4 linked regions of the Homo sapiens genome follow. The protein of the gene in region 1 interacts with the protein of each later gene in a pairwise test. Each region holds a gene or a part of one and is shown in the gene's direction. Other genes may lie near its edges.

Region 1 (3,643 bases):
AAATGTCAATATTTCTAAGTCCCAAGTATCTACTCAAATATTACTTCCTTAGAGGGGCCTTCTTTGATTATTACCTCCATCTAAATCAATTCTTCTTACCATCTTGCTGTGTCCCTTCTATCTCTTTCTATAACTTATCTCTGTCTGACATTACAACATATATTTATTTATTTAATTATTTATTGTCTATCGCCCACAGAATGCAATTCCATGAGGCCAGACACTTGGTCTGTCTTATCTTTGCTTTAATCCAAGTGCTTAGAGCAGTGATTGGCACAAACCAGGTATTCAACAATTATTGCCAAATAAATGAGTAAAAGGGAGATGTGACTAATTTTTGAACTGGGGTCATCCTAAGATCTTCAAAGGGTATCATCTTCATGTACTAAATTTCCTACATTAAGAAAAGATTTACAAATATAAAATTAGTCAGATTTCATTTGGCCTGAGGAGTTTAGGATGAAAGGGAGATGAAAAGATTTTTATTGGTGTTGAAATTTTAGATTTTTCCAATGTCTTGCAGGAAGGTTGGGGAAAGGCCAAGAGATCAGTCAGTAGAGGTGAATTTATAGAGTCATTAGAAGATGCCAATGAGAATAAAAATGAGGCTGATTCTGTTCTTGGTTCTTCCCTTGGGCCAGGTTGCAGTGAGAGCAGATGCTGGCAAGAAGCACTTACCAGACAAGCAGGATCACAAGGCCTCCCTGGACTCAATGCTTGGGGGTCTGGAGCAGGAATTGCAGGACCTTGGCATTGCCACAGTGCCCAAGGGCCATTGTGCATCCTGCCAGAAACCGATTGCTGGGAAGGTGAGATGGGCTGAAATTTTGGTCCTACAGCCTTCTTTGTCTCTCTCTGTCTCATCAAGGTTTGCTCTTTCCCCTTATATTTTAAGATATTTTAGTTAGCATTAATAATTACTAATCACTTACAGTGCTCTGGCCACTGAGCTAAGTGCTTTACAAGTATTTCCTCATTTAATGGTCACATCAGCCCTTCAAGAAGAATGATTGCTCCCTTTGTAAAGATGAGGAAACTGAGGACTCAGAGACATTAATGGACATATCCAAGGCATAATAAGAGGTAGAGGTAAGATCTGAAACCAGGAGACTGTCTCCTGAGTTTGAGTTCTTGACCATTTTTCTGTACTGCCTTTACTGAGATGACCTTTCTCACTGCTCCCTTTGTTCACACATTCCCAGTCTAAATTGATTGATTACAATTTTCAGCTGAACTCAGCTCCAAGTCACAGCTGCAAACTCCTGTTCTGCATCGTCCTTCACCGAAGCTATGATAAAAAGCTTTGAGACCTGACTGCATGGGGCGTGGAATAAAGTGTTCAAACTAGAGGAATAAAAACTGTCATTTGGCCTTTTCCTCTTCCAGGGGTCCCTTCCACACTAAGGCTACAGTTACAACTTCTCTGTCATCAATGTGCTATATGTTGTTTCTGCCACCCCCTGTGGCAGTGCAGTGGTTGTGAACATTTACAGGCTTTCATCACAGTGATCAGTCCCGGAAGTGGGCATCCTTTTATTATCAATCCATAAAGCACAGACCACAGATGGCCTTAGGTGGAACCTAGGTCTAGGCCTCAGTGTTGTATAATTCCAGGGCGTGTTGTCTACAAGGGGTACAATGTGAAGAGTGCTCCCTAGAGTTGTGCAACCTGTAGGCTGTAGAGCACTCAACTGGCCTCCTGTGTCAGGCTTTATTTCACTCCACAGGTGATCCATGCTCTAGGGCAATCATGGCATCCTGAGCATTTTGTCTGTACTCATTGCAAAGAAGAGATTGGCTCCAGTCCCTTCTTTGAGCGGAGTGGCTTGGCCTACTGCCCCAACGACTACCACCAACTTTTTTCTCCACGCTGTGCTTACTGCGCTGCTCCCATCCTGGATGTAAGTAAATCCCCGCTCCTCTCCAGCTTTCAGTCACTCACTTAGAACCAGAGTCATGCTTTACAACTTCTGCATCATTATAATATCTGTGTGTTCCCTTTCCAGAAAGTGCTGACAGCAATGAACCAGACCTGGCACCCAGAGCACTTCTTCTGCTCTCACTGCGGAGAGGTGTTTGGTGCAGAAGGTATGACCCGACTTGAGAGGCTGTATCCCACACCCCAGTGGGTAGTTATAAGACCAGCAACACCTTTCCTGGTAGTCACGGGAGTCCTGGTTCCTATCAGTACTATCAAAGTGCCCATTTCAGTACTAGATACCATCCCTCCCTACCTTTCTCCAACATTTATAATTTCCCTTTAAATTGATTTTTTAAATCACAGAAATACAAATGCATAGTTTAAAAACTCAAATATTACTTCAAGGGTAATATTGAAAAAGCCTTTTCTTGTTGAATATTGAAAAAGTCCCTTTCTCATCTCCAAATCCAGTTCTCCTCTCCAAATTATTTTAGCTGTTTCTTCTGATATTTACTTATTTTTTGTTGTTGTTGTTGTTTGTTTTTTTGAGACGGAGTCTCACTGTGTTGCCCAGGCTGGAGTGCAGTGGTGCGATCTCTGGTGCGATCTCCGCCCACTGCAACCTCCACCTCCTGGGTTCAAGCGATTCTCCTGCCTCAGCCTCCCAAGTAGCTGGGACTACAGGCACTTGCCACCACACCCGGTTAATTTTTGTATTTTTAGTAGGGACAATGTTTCACCATATTGGCCAGGCTGGTCTTGAACTCCTGACCTCGTGATCCGCCCGCCTTGGCCTCCCAAAGTGCTGGCATTACAGGCATGAACTACTGCGCCTGGCCTGCTTATGTGTTTTAAATAATAACTTTATATTGTTATAGATTGTTTTATTTTTCCAGTTTTAACCATTATGTATTGACTGTCTAAGAGGGAAGATGAGGTTTAGAAATGTTATTATTACCCCACTCACTCCTAACATATTTCCCCTCCCCTGTTTTTTCAATATATAATTATGTCATAATTACAGGTTAGATCAGTATTAAGTGTGCATATGTTGACAATCATAGAATACTGCTCACAAGTAAGCCATGTAGCAAACTGACTACACTAGAGTCTGGATTTTAGAGTCAGACTTCCAGGTTCAAATCTGGGTTGTGGTATTTGTTCAAGTCATTTAACATCTCTGTACCTTACTTTCCTCATCAGTAAAATAGTCCTAATGAAATTGCCTACCTTATAGGGTTGTTATGAGGATTTAGAGACAATACAAGCGTGGTATTTAGAATAGTGCCAAGCACATGGAGGTATAGTAGTGTTAATATTATTATCACAGTGTCCTTTTGGTATAAATTCATTTTTTTCTAAAGTTAACATTTGAATCCTTTTTGAAATTGGCTTAGTTTTTATTGTACTTATCACTAAGTTATGCAACAGAACTGTGAAATTCTTTTCAAAATGGCCAACTACATCTGGCAACAAGTCAGTTTCTTTCTTTTCTTTTTTTTTTTTCTGGAGATATCCCTCCAGGAGACTTTCCTCCTCCTGATTCAACATGAAATGATTTCTTCCTGCTGAGTAGCAGTCATTCTGGTTCATTAACTTAGAATTATATCTAGTAATTACTCTTGGAAATTCCTTTTATTAGTTTCCTCTTTGGATGCTCTGTTTCCTGGGTCCCATGTCTATGTTTTATACATGTTACCACCTTTATTTTGGTGGGGAACA
Region 2 (3,643 bases), on another chromosome or scaffold:
CTTAAGTGATGTGAAGTGAACAGTACTTGTTTCCCGGTTTTTGCTCATAGGTTTCCCTAGTTTGGAAGTGACTCTCTCCCAATTCCCACCCTTTACTATGTTGAGAAGAATTTCATAATCAGTTCAAATCATACCTCTTCTTAAAAGGTCCCTTAATAACTCATTTGAAGATGAAGAAAGAGCAGCAGTCTGAGACTTTTAAGAATACCCTAGCTCAGTTATTAACCAGTTGCAAGGCAGTTAACCCTTTTTGGCCATTATTTTCTCATTTCAAATTATATAATTACATAGTCTTTTTCTGCATTGTATTTATGTTATCTGAACATAAGCAGAACATTAAAACATGCTTCAATGCGTTTCAATCATCATAAAGGCACATTCTTGTCATTCCAGGTCAAATCCCTTGATGGCATATCCAACATCGGCAGTATTATCCGGAAGTGGAATGGTTTGTTATCAGCAATGGCAGATGCTGACCATTTTGACATTCACTTCCCACTAGACCTGGATGTGAAGATGAAAGCCATGATTTTTGGAGCTTGCTTCCTCATTGTAAGCCTTCTATTTTTGAGTTATCCTGAGAGAGTTGTTCTTTCTGATGGAGAAGCAGTATAGTGTAGTATAAAGAATAAGCCTTGAAACCAATCCAACTTATCTCTGTGCCACTTACTAGTTACATGGTTTAGAAAGTGTTTACACTTGAAAGCCTCAGTTTCCTCATCTGTAAAATGGAGATTAAAATACTTATAATTTTCAGGGTTATGAATGTTAGCTATCATGGTAAAATGACCAGGGGAGTACTTAGATAACATTAGGTATCCATTGGGTATAATTATCATCATTGCATGTTATTTGTCATTGTCACTACTTAAAAATGCCTAGCCTATGATTTCTTAGTGAAATAACTCTAAAGTGGATGTCCCATTCCTCCTTCCTTTCTGCCTGTCACTGTACTCTTTGGGGTTGTCCAATCCTGAGATTATGAAGTTTTTCCTCTTTTTAATGATGAGATTCAGTTAATTGGCACTTCAAATGGAAAACTAACAGTTCCAAATTTGTAACTGCTGCTCTTCACAGTAGGTGCTCTTCATAAATATTTCCCTAAATTTATGTATTTTAACTGGAATGGGGGAATCCCCTAATAAATTACAAAGGATAATACCGCATGCATTATACCTAATTATCTATATATCTACATATAATTCTTTTTCCAATTTCAGGACTTCATGTATTTTGAAAGATCTCCACCACAACGTTCAAGATAGAGAGACACAGCAAGCCATCAACTATGGTTAATTTTGAAAAATGGAAAAGTTGGATTGGGCTTACAGTCAGCACTCAGTTATTTGCAAGTGTATTTCTTTGCTTTGTAGAGTATTTTTATTGGGTGTTAACTTTGACAGCTGAGAGTGGGCTTGCAAGAACACAATCTAAAAGTGTGTTTCAATTGAGTATCTCTCTAGTAGAATAGGAGTTCATCCTGAAAAGCTGTGACTCATTAACCCAGTAAACATATACAAAGTAAGCTTAAAACACTATAAACATGAGATAAGGGAAAATGAATCCAGAGTTCTCATATTAATAGGTAGTGAAACAATAAGGCTTTTTAGAGCAGACTTTGTTGGCATAAAATAACCTGGCTTCTATCCCTAACCCTTTCCTACCTTTCCTCTCCGTCAACATGTCCTCATACTGAAGACAAACTTGTTTCAATGATAGTCTTCATTTTTAAAAACAAAAAGGCAGGCAGACAGAAATAATGATGTTTTCTTGCACTAAGAAGGTACTACTTGTACACATATATCAAAACCTCATTCTGCAAAGTTTTTGAAGGTTTCAATGGGAAATTTGATTTTATTACAAAATAAAACATTTTTTAATGTTAAAGTTTATATATTCCATGCTTGTTTTCTCATTCACTGGCATGGATGATCAGGAGCTGCCTATATATGAAGGCAGAATCAGACTATCAGGAAAGGAGCTGGCCAGGGCCACAGCCAGTCAAGATCTCTGAGCAACTTAGAGACATTGGTGTCATTATATGAAGCTTGCATTTAATACATTTATACATAATACATTTGTACATTTAATTCATAACGTCTCTTGGTCACAGATGCCTTATATATAAAATAAGTTGCCAGATCTCTAAGATTGCCTAGTACACCTTTGTATCTCATTTGATGTGATACCCAGAAGAGATCATTGTTTTTTGTTTTTGTTTTTGTTTTTTTCAAGAAGATCCTTCGTGATCACCATGCTGTTCTCATGGTAAGAACTGGAGTTATGTTTTTAAATTTGGAAATATGACATTTTATGTAGCACTTTATAAAAAGTGAAAGCGACAAATTCCACCGCTGCTTAATACTGCTTTGCTTCTTTTTATTGACATGATAGATAAATATGTATCTACACAGAGTAATAATAATAAAACACAGTAAACATTCTATTTCTCTATGGTCTACAGCATGCCAGTAAATAATATGTAGGACCAATAATAAATTATCAATTACACATTTTTGTGTTAACTAATTAAAAGCATAGTGTATAAGTGAGTACACTCTAATTAACTTGCTTCTGTTGCACTTTAGTTTTCTACCTGCATATGGACTGCATTTTTTTTTTTTAACACAGTCAGTATGTAGAATGGGATGTATTCTTCTGCTGCTGCTTATTAAATAAAGAAAGCCTGAGTGTTCTTAGATGGGGTTATTCTGAGATGAGGGTCTTAGCCTACAGTTCTTTTTGAAATGAAAGGTGCTTTGTTTTTTAATTATATTCATCTTTTCAGGGTAAATTTGTTTTTCTGAGTTTCTCGTAATGCTCATTTTTACATGCTGCTACTAGCTTTTTTTTTTAAAAAAAGTAAAAGTTGCTGCTTTCTAAAATATTAATTGCCTTATATTTGAAAGTGCCATTGCAATCGTAAGTAGACTATGTATTTCCTATAATGATGTCTGATATTTAAATAGGAAATCAGACAAACAATATTCAGAAAGTTTAAGCATATAAACTTTTTATTTTTAACTTGCCTAAATCCCTGTATTCCAAAACCTGCTGCATCATAATAAATATATCTATATATATTTAGCATAAGACGTGATATTTTTAATTTCTTTTTTAAAAAATTATATTTGTCTCTTAGAGTTAAAATTTTCTTTATATAATATTGTCATATGTCATAGTTTTAATACAATTCACATGATTTCTATGTTTCTTAATGATATTTTGTTGTGTAAAATTGATCGGATTGATTAAAAAACAAATTCTCTGGAATTTGTGCGTTCATGCTTTTTCGTATTCTTTATGGCTTTTAAATAAATATACAATGGTTAATAGTAAAACACTGTTTTATTTTTTGACTTTGAATCTTCAAATACTTTTTTCACAGGGATTTTGAAGTAATTTTTATTGATTATTAGGTTTATTCAAGGCCCTTGCTTTCTAATATAAATTTTAAATTATTTTTAATTTATATATTTAATATATATTTAATTTATATATTTTTAATTATATATATTTATATATAATATATATAATTTATATATAATATATATTATATATATTTTTATAATATATAAAAATATAATTTATATATTTTTAATTTAATAAATTTTAAATTATTAAAGTCAGCCGGGCACGGTGG
Region 3 (3,643 bases), on another chromosome or scaffold:
AAAAAAAAAAAAGATTCCAGGCAAAGGGAACAGCCTGTGCAAAGGCCTGGAGGCCAGGGAGAGCCTAACTAACTCATTTGATCTGTCCAGGAGATGATTGTCTCTGTCTGGTTTCTGGCAGGGCCCATGGTGCCCCTATCTCTCTCCCTCACCTCCCTCTCATTTATGCTTTTATTCAATAATTGCCCACAGGTTCCTGCTGTGTGCCTGGCCATGTGCTGGGTGGTGTGGGGGACATAGTGATAACCAAGACAGCCCTCAGTTCTGCCCTCATGGGGCCCACAGTCACTTCTGGACACCTAAGAGATCTTGTCAAGGCCCCACCAGGCAGGAATGACCTAGAATGATCAAGAATGGGATGGGGAGGCACCAGCAGGGAGGACAAGGCTGGGACAGGGAGGCATGCAGGATGGGGGAACGCCCTAAGTGCTGTTGGGAGCCCAGAGAAGGCACCTGGACCCATCTGGGGAGTCTAGGAGGGCTTGCTGGGTGAGGGTGATTGTGTGGAGACTCACAGGATAAATAGTAGTTTGGCCACATGAAAAAAAAGGGATTAGGGGGCCTGGCATGGTGGCTCACGCCTGTAATCCCAGCACTTTGAGAGGCCGAGGTGGGTGGATCACCTGAGATCGGGAGTTCGAGACCAGCCTGACCAACATGGAGAAACCCCGTCTCTACTAAAAATACATAATTAGCTCGGCGTGGTGATGCATGCCTGTAATCCCAGCTACTCGGGAGGCTGAGGCAGGAGAATTGCTTGAACCCAGGAGGTGGAGGTTTCAGTGAGCCAAGATCGTGCCATTGCACTCCAGCCTGGGCAACAACAGTGAAACTCCGTCTCAAAAAAAAAAAAGAAAAGAAAAAGAAAAAATAGGGATTAGGGAGCAGGTGGGCACTGGGAGGAGTGTCCTGGGCTGTTCGACAAAGGCCTAGAAGGAGCTCATCTGTCTTGGTCAATGCTGAGTCCCAAGCACACAGCACAGGCTTCGGCACATTGTAGGAGCCTAGAAAACATCATTCACTCATTCATTCAAGAGATTGATGCTGGCTGGGTGCAGTGGCTCATGCCTGTAATCCCAGCACTTCGGGAGGCCAGGGCAGGAGGATTGCTTGAGCCCAGCCTGGGCAACATAGTGAGACCTCTGTCTCTACAGAGAATTTAAAAAGTAGCCGTGTAGGCCGGATGCAGTGGCTCAAGCCTGTAATCCCAGCACTTTGGGATGCCAAGGCAGGCGGATCACCTGAGGTCAGGAGTTTGAGACCAGCCTGGCCAGCATGGTGAAACCCCATCTCTACTAAAAATACAAAAAATTAGCCGGGTGTGGTGGCGCATGCCTGTTATCCCAGCTACTTGGGAGGCTGAGGCAGGAGAATCGTTTGAACCTGGGAGGTGGAGGTTGCAGTGAGCTGATATCACGCCACTGAACTCCAGCCTGGGCAACAGAGCCAGACTCCATCTCAAAAAAAAAAAAAAAATTAGCCATGCGTGGTAGCACGCGCCTGTGGTCCCAGCTACTCGGGAGGCTGAGATGGGAGGATTGCTTGGGCCTTGGAGATTGAGGCTGCGAGACCTTGTCTCAAAAAAAAAAAAAAAAAAAAAAAGAGAGAGCTGCAGTGAGAGGGCAGAGTGGGGTGGGTGGGGGAGGCAGGAAGGAAGCCCCTGGGGTTTGCTCCTTCCTTCCTCTTCCTCCAGGGGCTGGGTGAGCTGCACTCTCAGACTGGCTTCCCTCTCGCCACTCCTACAGGGGAAATTGAGGGCTTTCGCCTTAGCGCCCACTGCTCCTGTGACAGCAGGGATAACACACTGCAAGTGGACATCAACGGTGAGGCCTGCTTCCCCGGCCATGCCCAGTTGTGACGTGTGTGCGTGTGTGTGTTCCCATCTGCCCCACGCCCCACTTATCTATCCCTCTGAGAGTGTGTGTGTATGTCCCCTATCCCCTGACTCCCACACCAAAGCAGGGTTCACTACCGGCCGCCGAGGTGACCTGGCCACCATTCATGGCATGAACCGGCCTTTCCTGCTTCTCATGGCCACCCCGCTGGAGAGGGCCCAGCATCTGCAAAGCTCCCGGCACCGCCGAGCCCTGGACACCAACTATTGCTTCAGGTGAGCCTTGTAGCCTGGATGGAGGCCTTCCAGGCTGGGGGCATGACTGCCATCTGCTGACCAGGTGCTCCAGGTTGGACACCTGGCTGCTGCTGTGCTTGGGCTGAGCATCTGTCTCCTTTAGCTTGGAGGGCTCAGGGGATGAGGTCTGGGTGTAAGAACCAGGAGTCTTGTGCCAGGTGCGGTGGCTCACGCCTGTAATCCCAACACTTTGGGAGGCTGAGGCAGGTGGATCACCTGAAGTGAGGAGTTTGAGACCTGTCTGGCCAACATGGTGAAACCCGTCTCTACTAAAAATCCAAAAATTAGCCAGGCGTGGTGGGCGCCTATAATCCCAGCCACAAAAAACAAAAAAAGAACTGGGAGTCTTGTAATGTTGGGATCAGGTTCCTTTTTTTTTTTTTTTTTTTTTTTTTGAGACAGAGTCTCGCTCTGTCACCTGGGCTGGAGTGCAGTGGCGCTATCTTGATTCACTGCAAGCTCCACCTCCCGGGTTCACACGATTCTCCTGTCTCAGCCTCCCGAGTAGCTAGGACTACAGGCACGTGCCACCACGCCCAGCTAATTTTTTTGTATTTTTAGTAGAGATGGGGTTTCACTGTGTTAGCCAGGATGGTCTCCATCTCCTGACCTCGTGATACACCCACCTCAGCCTCCCAAAGTGCTGGGATTACAGGCGTGAGCCAACGCGCCCGGCCTAATTTTTTGTATCTTTAGTAGAGACTGGGTTTCACCATGTTAGCCAGGATGGTCTTGATCTCCTGACCTCGTGATCCGCCTGCCTCAGCCTCCCGAAGTGCTGGGATTACAGGTGTGAGCCACCACGCCCAGCCTTGCTTTCTTGCTGGAGTGTTGGAATCACAGAATGTTAGAAAGTTGAACCCTGTGATTGTTGGAATTCAAAGTTGGAAGGTCACCATCTTGAATCCCTAAATTGTTGGCAGGTTGAGGTTCTAGAATGCTGGGATTCTAGAATGCTAGAATTTGGTGTTAATTACTGAAATGGAAAATGTCGGACTCAAGGAAAGCTGAAACATTGGAATCCTAGAATTTGGGGATTCAAAATGGGAAGATGGCCCATGTGGAATTCCTGCACCACTGGCCAATTGTGGATACCAGTGTTGGCAGATTGGAGTCCTTGAATATTGGGCTCACAGTGGTAGAATTCTGTTTTGAAATATTCACATCCACAAATGTTGGAGTTGGAGAAAGCAGAATATTGGTATCTCAGCATGTTGGAACTCAGTGTTGGAATGTTAGAATATTAGAATGCTGGGATTTTATTAATAGAAAGTGGCAGCAGGCTGGGCGCGGTGGCTCACGCCTATAATTCCAGCACTTTGGGAGGCTGAGGTGGGCGGATCCCTGAGGTCTGGAGTTCAAGACCAGCCTGGCCAACATGGTGAAACCCCATCTCTATTAAAAATACAAAAATTAGCCAGGTGTGGTGGCTGGCACCTGTAATCCCAGCTACTCGGCTGGGATTACGGCTATCCAGGTACCCAGGCTGGGGCAGGAGAATCACTGGAACCT
Region 4 (3,643 bases), on another chromosome or scaffold:
AAAATTAGCCGGGTGGCGGGCGCCTGTAGTCCCAGCTGCTTGGGAGGCTGAGGCAGGAGAATGGCATGAACCCAGGAGGCGGAGCTTGCAGTGAGCGCCACTGCACTCCAGTCTGGGTGACAGAGCAAGACTACGTCTCAAAAAAAAATAAAAATAGTTGGATGTAGCTGGTGGTTACATGGACAGCACAGATCTAGATGATCTTTGCCCACTCTAAAATCTAAGCTGTAATTTAATAACTGGTTAGACTCAGTTTAATAATTGTCCTTTCTTAATGTACAAATTGGAGAGAGAGTATGTTGACTTAGTTTTTCTAATATGCCCAGATATTATTTCAGTATGTATTATAAAACAGTGCTGATTTTCTAATTGATACATCTGTGTTCAATAAAGTAGATAATCTAAGTTGTAAGCAAGTCAGTTTCTTTCCATCTTAACAGGTATTTTCACTTGAATTTTTAAAAAGTAGCTATTAAGTTTTCCTTAGTTATCCTGTGGAAAGCATTGGCAGGATAGTTTTTGCCTCTGGCCTAGTCCCTCTAGGCTTGTTGGCACTTGTTGATTACTTCCAGATTGATCTGCTGTTTATGTTAATTCCAGGTACCGAAACAGTGGTTCTTAACCTCCTACCTTTTTTTGTTTTGTTGTTGTCGTTGTTTTGAGACGGAGTTTTGCTCTTATTGTTCAGGTTGGAGTGCAATGGTGTGATCTTCGCTCACTGCAGCCTCCGCCTCCTGGGTTCAAGTGATTCTCCTGCTGCAGCCTCCCAAGTAGCTGGGATTACAGGCATGCACCACCACGCCCAGCTAATTTTATGTTTTTAGTAGAGATGGGGTTTCAACCATGTTGGCCAGGCTGGTCTTGAACTCCTGACCTCAAGTGATCCACCCGTCTCGGCCTCCCAAAGTGCAGGGATTACAGGCGTGAGCCACCGTGCCTGGCCTTAACCTCCCACCTTATGCAGTGGGAAGATTCTAACCCTATAGTCACAGGCCTATGTCCAAATCTTGGCATTTACTGTGTGTGTAAAGAGCATCAGTGCTCTTGTTTGTAAAATGACATTTACAAGACTGTAGTTTGAGATGAGAGAAATAATTTGTCATTTAGAAAATGCCTGTCATGGCTGGGCGCGATGGCTCATGCCTGTAATCTCAGCACTTTGGGAGGCCGAGGCAGGCGGATCACAAAGTCAGGAGTTCTAGACTAGCCTGGCCAACATGATGAAAACCCGTCTTTACTAAAATACAAAAAATTAGCTGAGTATGGTGGTGCATACCTGTACTCCCAGCTACTCTGAAGGCCCAGGCAGGAGAATCGCTTGAACCCAGGAGGCGGAGGTTGCAGTGAGCCGAGATCACACCATTGCACTCCAGCCTGGGCGACAGAGCAATACTCTGTCTTGAAAAAAGAAAATGCCTGTCACAGCCGGGCGCGGTGGCTAATGCCTGTAATCCCAGGACTTTGGGAGGCCGAGGCGGGCGGATCACAAGGTCAGGAGTTCAAGACCAGCCTGGCCAGCGTGGTGAAACCCCATCTCTACTAAAAATACGAAAAAACTGGCCATGGTAGCGTATGCCTGTAATCCCAGCTACTCGGGAGGCTGAGACAGAAAAATTGCTTGAACCCAGCAGGCGGAGCTTGCAGTGAGCCGAGATCGTGCCACTGTACTCCAGGCTGGGTGACAGAGCGAGACTCCCTCTCAAAAAAAAAAAAAAAAAAAGAAAATGCCTGTCACATAATAGGTCCTTAGTAGATGTAAGTTACCTACCCTCCCCCTCCTGCTTGGATTTTATAGCCCTCTGTAATTGAGTTTTATGCTTAAGATTCCAATCAGGCTTAATACATATTCTGAGTCTTCATCTCTACCCGTTACTGTAATTTCATGCCTTGCTTTGTTCATGTTGTATCCCATGTAGATTGTGCCATTTGTGCTCTGGATGTCTTCTCTTGACTTTTTTTTTAATCTTAATTTTTTTTTTTTTTTTTATAGGCGGGGTCTCCCTGTGTTGCCCAGGCTGGGCTCAAGCAATCATCCTGACTCGGCCTCAAAAAGTGCTGGGATTACAGGCATGAGCCACTCTGCTCAGCCTGTTGATTTCTCTTTATTTATTTATTTATTTATTTATTTATTTACTGTTTTTTGAGATGGAGTCTCACTCTGTTGGCCAGGTTGGAGTGCAGTGGCACGATCTTGGCTCACTGCAGCCTCTGCGTCCCAGATTCAGGTGATTCTTCTGCCTCAGCCTCTTGAGTAGTTGGGACTGCAGGTGCCCACCACCACGCCCGGCTAATTTTTGTATTTTTTTTTTTTTTTTTTTTTTTTGAGACGGAGTCTCGCTCTGTTGCCCAGGCGGAGTGCAGTGGTGCGATCTCAGCTCACTGCAAGCTCTGCCTCCCAGGTTCACGCCATTCTTCTGCCTCAGCTTTCCGAGTAGCTGGGACTACAGGCGCCTGCCACCACGCCCGGCTAATTTTTTGTATTTTTAGTAGAGACAGGGTTTCACCGTGTTAGCCAGGATGGTCTCGATCTCCTGACCTTGTGATCCGCCCGCCTCGGCCTCCCAAAGTGCTGGGATTACAGGTGTGAACCACCGCGCCCGGCAATTTTTGTATTTTTAGTAGAGACGGATTCGTCTCTGTGTTGACCAGGCTGGTCTTGAACTACTGACCTCAAGTGATTCATCTGCCTTGGCCTCCCAAAGTGCTGGGATTACAGGAGTGAGCCATCGCACCCTGCCAGCCTGTTGACTTCTTAAGGACTTACCTCGTTCTTGCCTACATCATGAATTTTTCCCTTTCTGGATTATCTTTATTAATATGCAGATGTGCTTTAGGGCTGTACTGTCCAGTATGGTAGCTACTAATCAATAGTGCTTTCTGCAATGAAATGTGTGGCTGTTAAAAGAAAAATTTAAAAAATTTAGGTCCTCAGTGATGCTAGTCATATTTCAGTTGTTCAGTAGCCATATATGGTGCTAATGGCTGCTCTATTGGACAGTGCAGATATAGAACATCCCTATCATTGCAGACAACACTATTGGACAGCACTAAGTGTGGCTTCCTTGTTTATAAGCCCTCTCGCCATTCCACATTATTCTCTAGCTACAGCCTCATTTCTCTGATTCTCTTCCAAGCCAGTTTTCAAAAGTTGTCTTTTTGTGCTCTCTCCACTTCCCTTTGCTTCTCAGCCTACTACAGATTGGCCTCCATTCTTACCACTAAAACTACTCTAGTCAAGGTTGCCAGTGGTTTCTATTTACTAAATTAGTCTTACAGGCTCTTGTAGGAGCATTCAATATAGTTGACCACTGTTTTCGGCCTATTCATCTACTTCTCATTTTATGAGACATATGTTCTTGTTTTCCTTCTACTTTACACCTTGTTATACTGTATGCTTTTTTTTGTTTCTGAGACGGAGTCTCGCTGTCGTCCAGGTTGGAGTGCAGTGGCGCAATATTGGCTCACTGCAACCTCCATCTACTGGGTTCAAGTGATTATCCTGCCTCAGCCTCCCCAGTAGCTGGGATTACAGGCGCACACCACCACGCCTGGCTAATTTTTGTATTTTTAGTAGAGATGGGGTTTCACCATGTTGGTCAGGCTGGTCTCGGAACTCCTGACCTCAGCCTCCTTATTACAGGCA

The links. Proteins that work in one complex are often made in the same cells at the same time.
Region 2: the proteins of LPXN (region 1) and PLSCR4 interact in a two-hybrid assay, tested with the Homo sapiens proteins (one large-scale study listed by BioGRID and IntAct).
Region 3: the proteins of LPXN (region 1) and TGFB1 interact in binary tests that used the Homo sapiens proteins (3 or more experiments, as listed by UniProt).
Region 4: the proteins of LPXN (region 1) and MAPK6 interact in a two-hybrid assay, tested with the Homo sapiens proteins (one large-scale study listed by BioGRID and IntAct).

Annotation. Positions count from the first base shown.
Region 1 is NC_000011.10:58,548,231-58,551,873, reverse strand, and holds part of LPXN (leupaxin), read left to right. Parts: intron 1-641; coding exon 642-809; intron 810-993; coding exon of another isoform or gene 994-1,077; exon of another isoform or gene 1,078-1,721; intron 1,722-1,727; coding exon 1,728-1,901; intron 1,902-2,006; coding exon 2,007-2,088; intron 2,089-3,643. UniProt on the Homo sapiens protein: Transcriptional coactivator for androgen receptor (AR) and serum response factor (SRF). Contributes to the regulation of cell adhesion, spreading and cell migration and acts as a negative regulator in integrin-mediated cell adhesion events.
Region 2 is NC_000003.12:146,192,033-146,195,675, reverse strand, and holds the end of PLSCR4 (phospholipid scramblase 4), read left to right. Parts: intron 1-393; coding exon 394-552; intron 553-1,220; coding exon 1,221-1,265; 3' UTR 1,266-3,341; downstream 3,342-3,643. UniProt on the Homo sapiens protein: Catalyzes metal ion-induced ATP-independent rapid bidirectional and non-specific movement of phospholipids (lipid scrambling or lipid flip-flop) between the inner and outer leaflet of the plasma membrane and participates in the redistribution of phospholipids between membrane leaflets.
Region 3 is NC_000019.10:41,340,350-41,343,992, reverse strand, and holds part of TGFB1 (transforming growth factor beta-1 proprotein preproprotein), read left to right. Parts: intron 1-1,745; coding exon 1,746-1,823; intron 1,824-1,959; coding exon of another isoform or gene 1,960-1,962; coding exon 1,963-2,110; intron 2,111-3,643. UniProt on the Homo sapiens protein: Transforming growth factor beta-1 proprotein: Precursor of the Latency-associated peptide (LAP) and Transforming growth factor beta-1 (TGF-beta-1) chains, which constitute the regulatory and active subunit of TGF-beta-1, respectively.
Region 4 is NC_000015.10:52,025,649-52,029,291, forward strand, and holds part of MAPK6 (mitogen-activated protein kinase 6), read left to right. Parts: intron 1-1,990; exon of another isoform or gene 1,991-2,225; intron 2,226-3,643. UniProt on the Homo sapiens protein: Atypical MAPK protein. Phosphorylates microtubule-associated protein 2 (MAP2) and MAPKAPK5.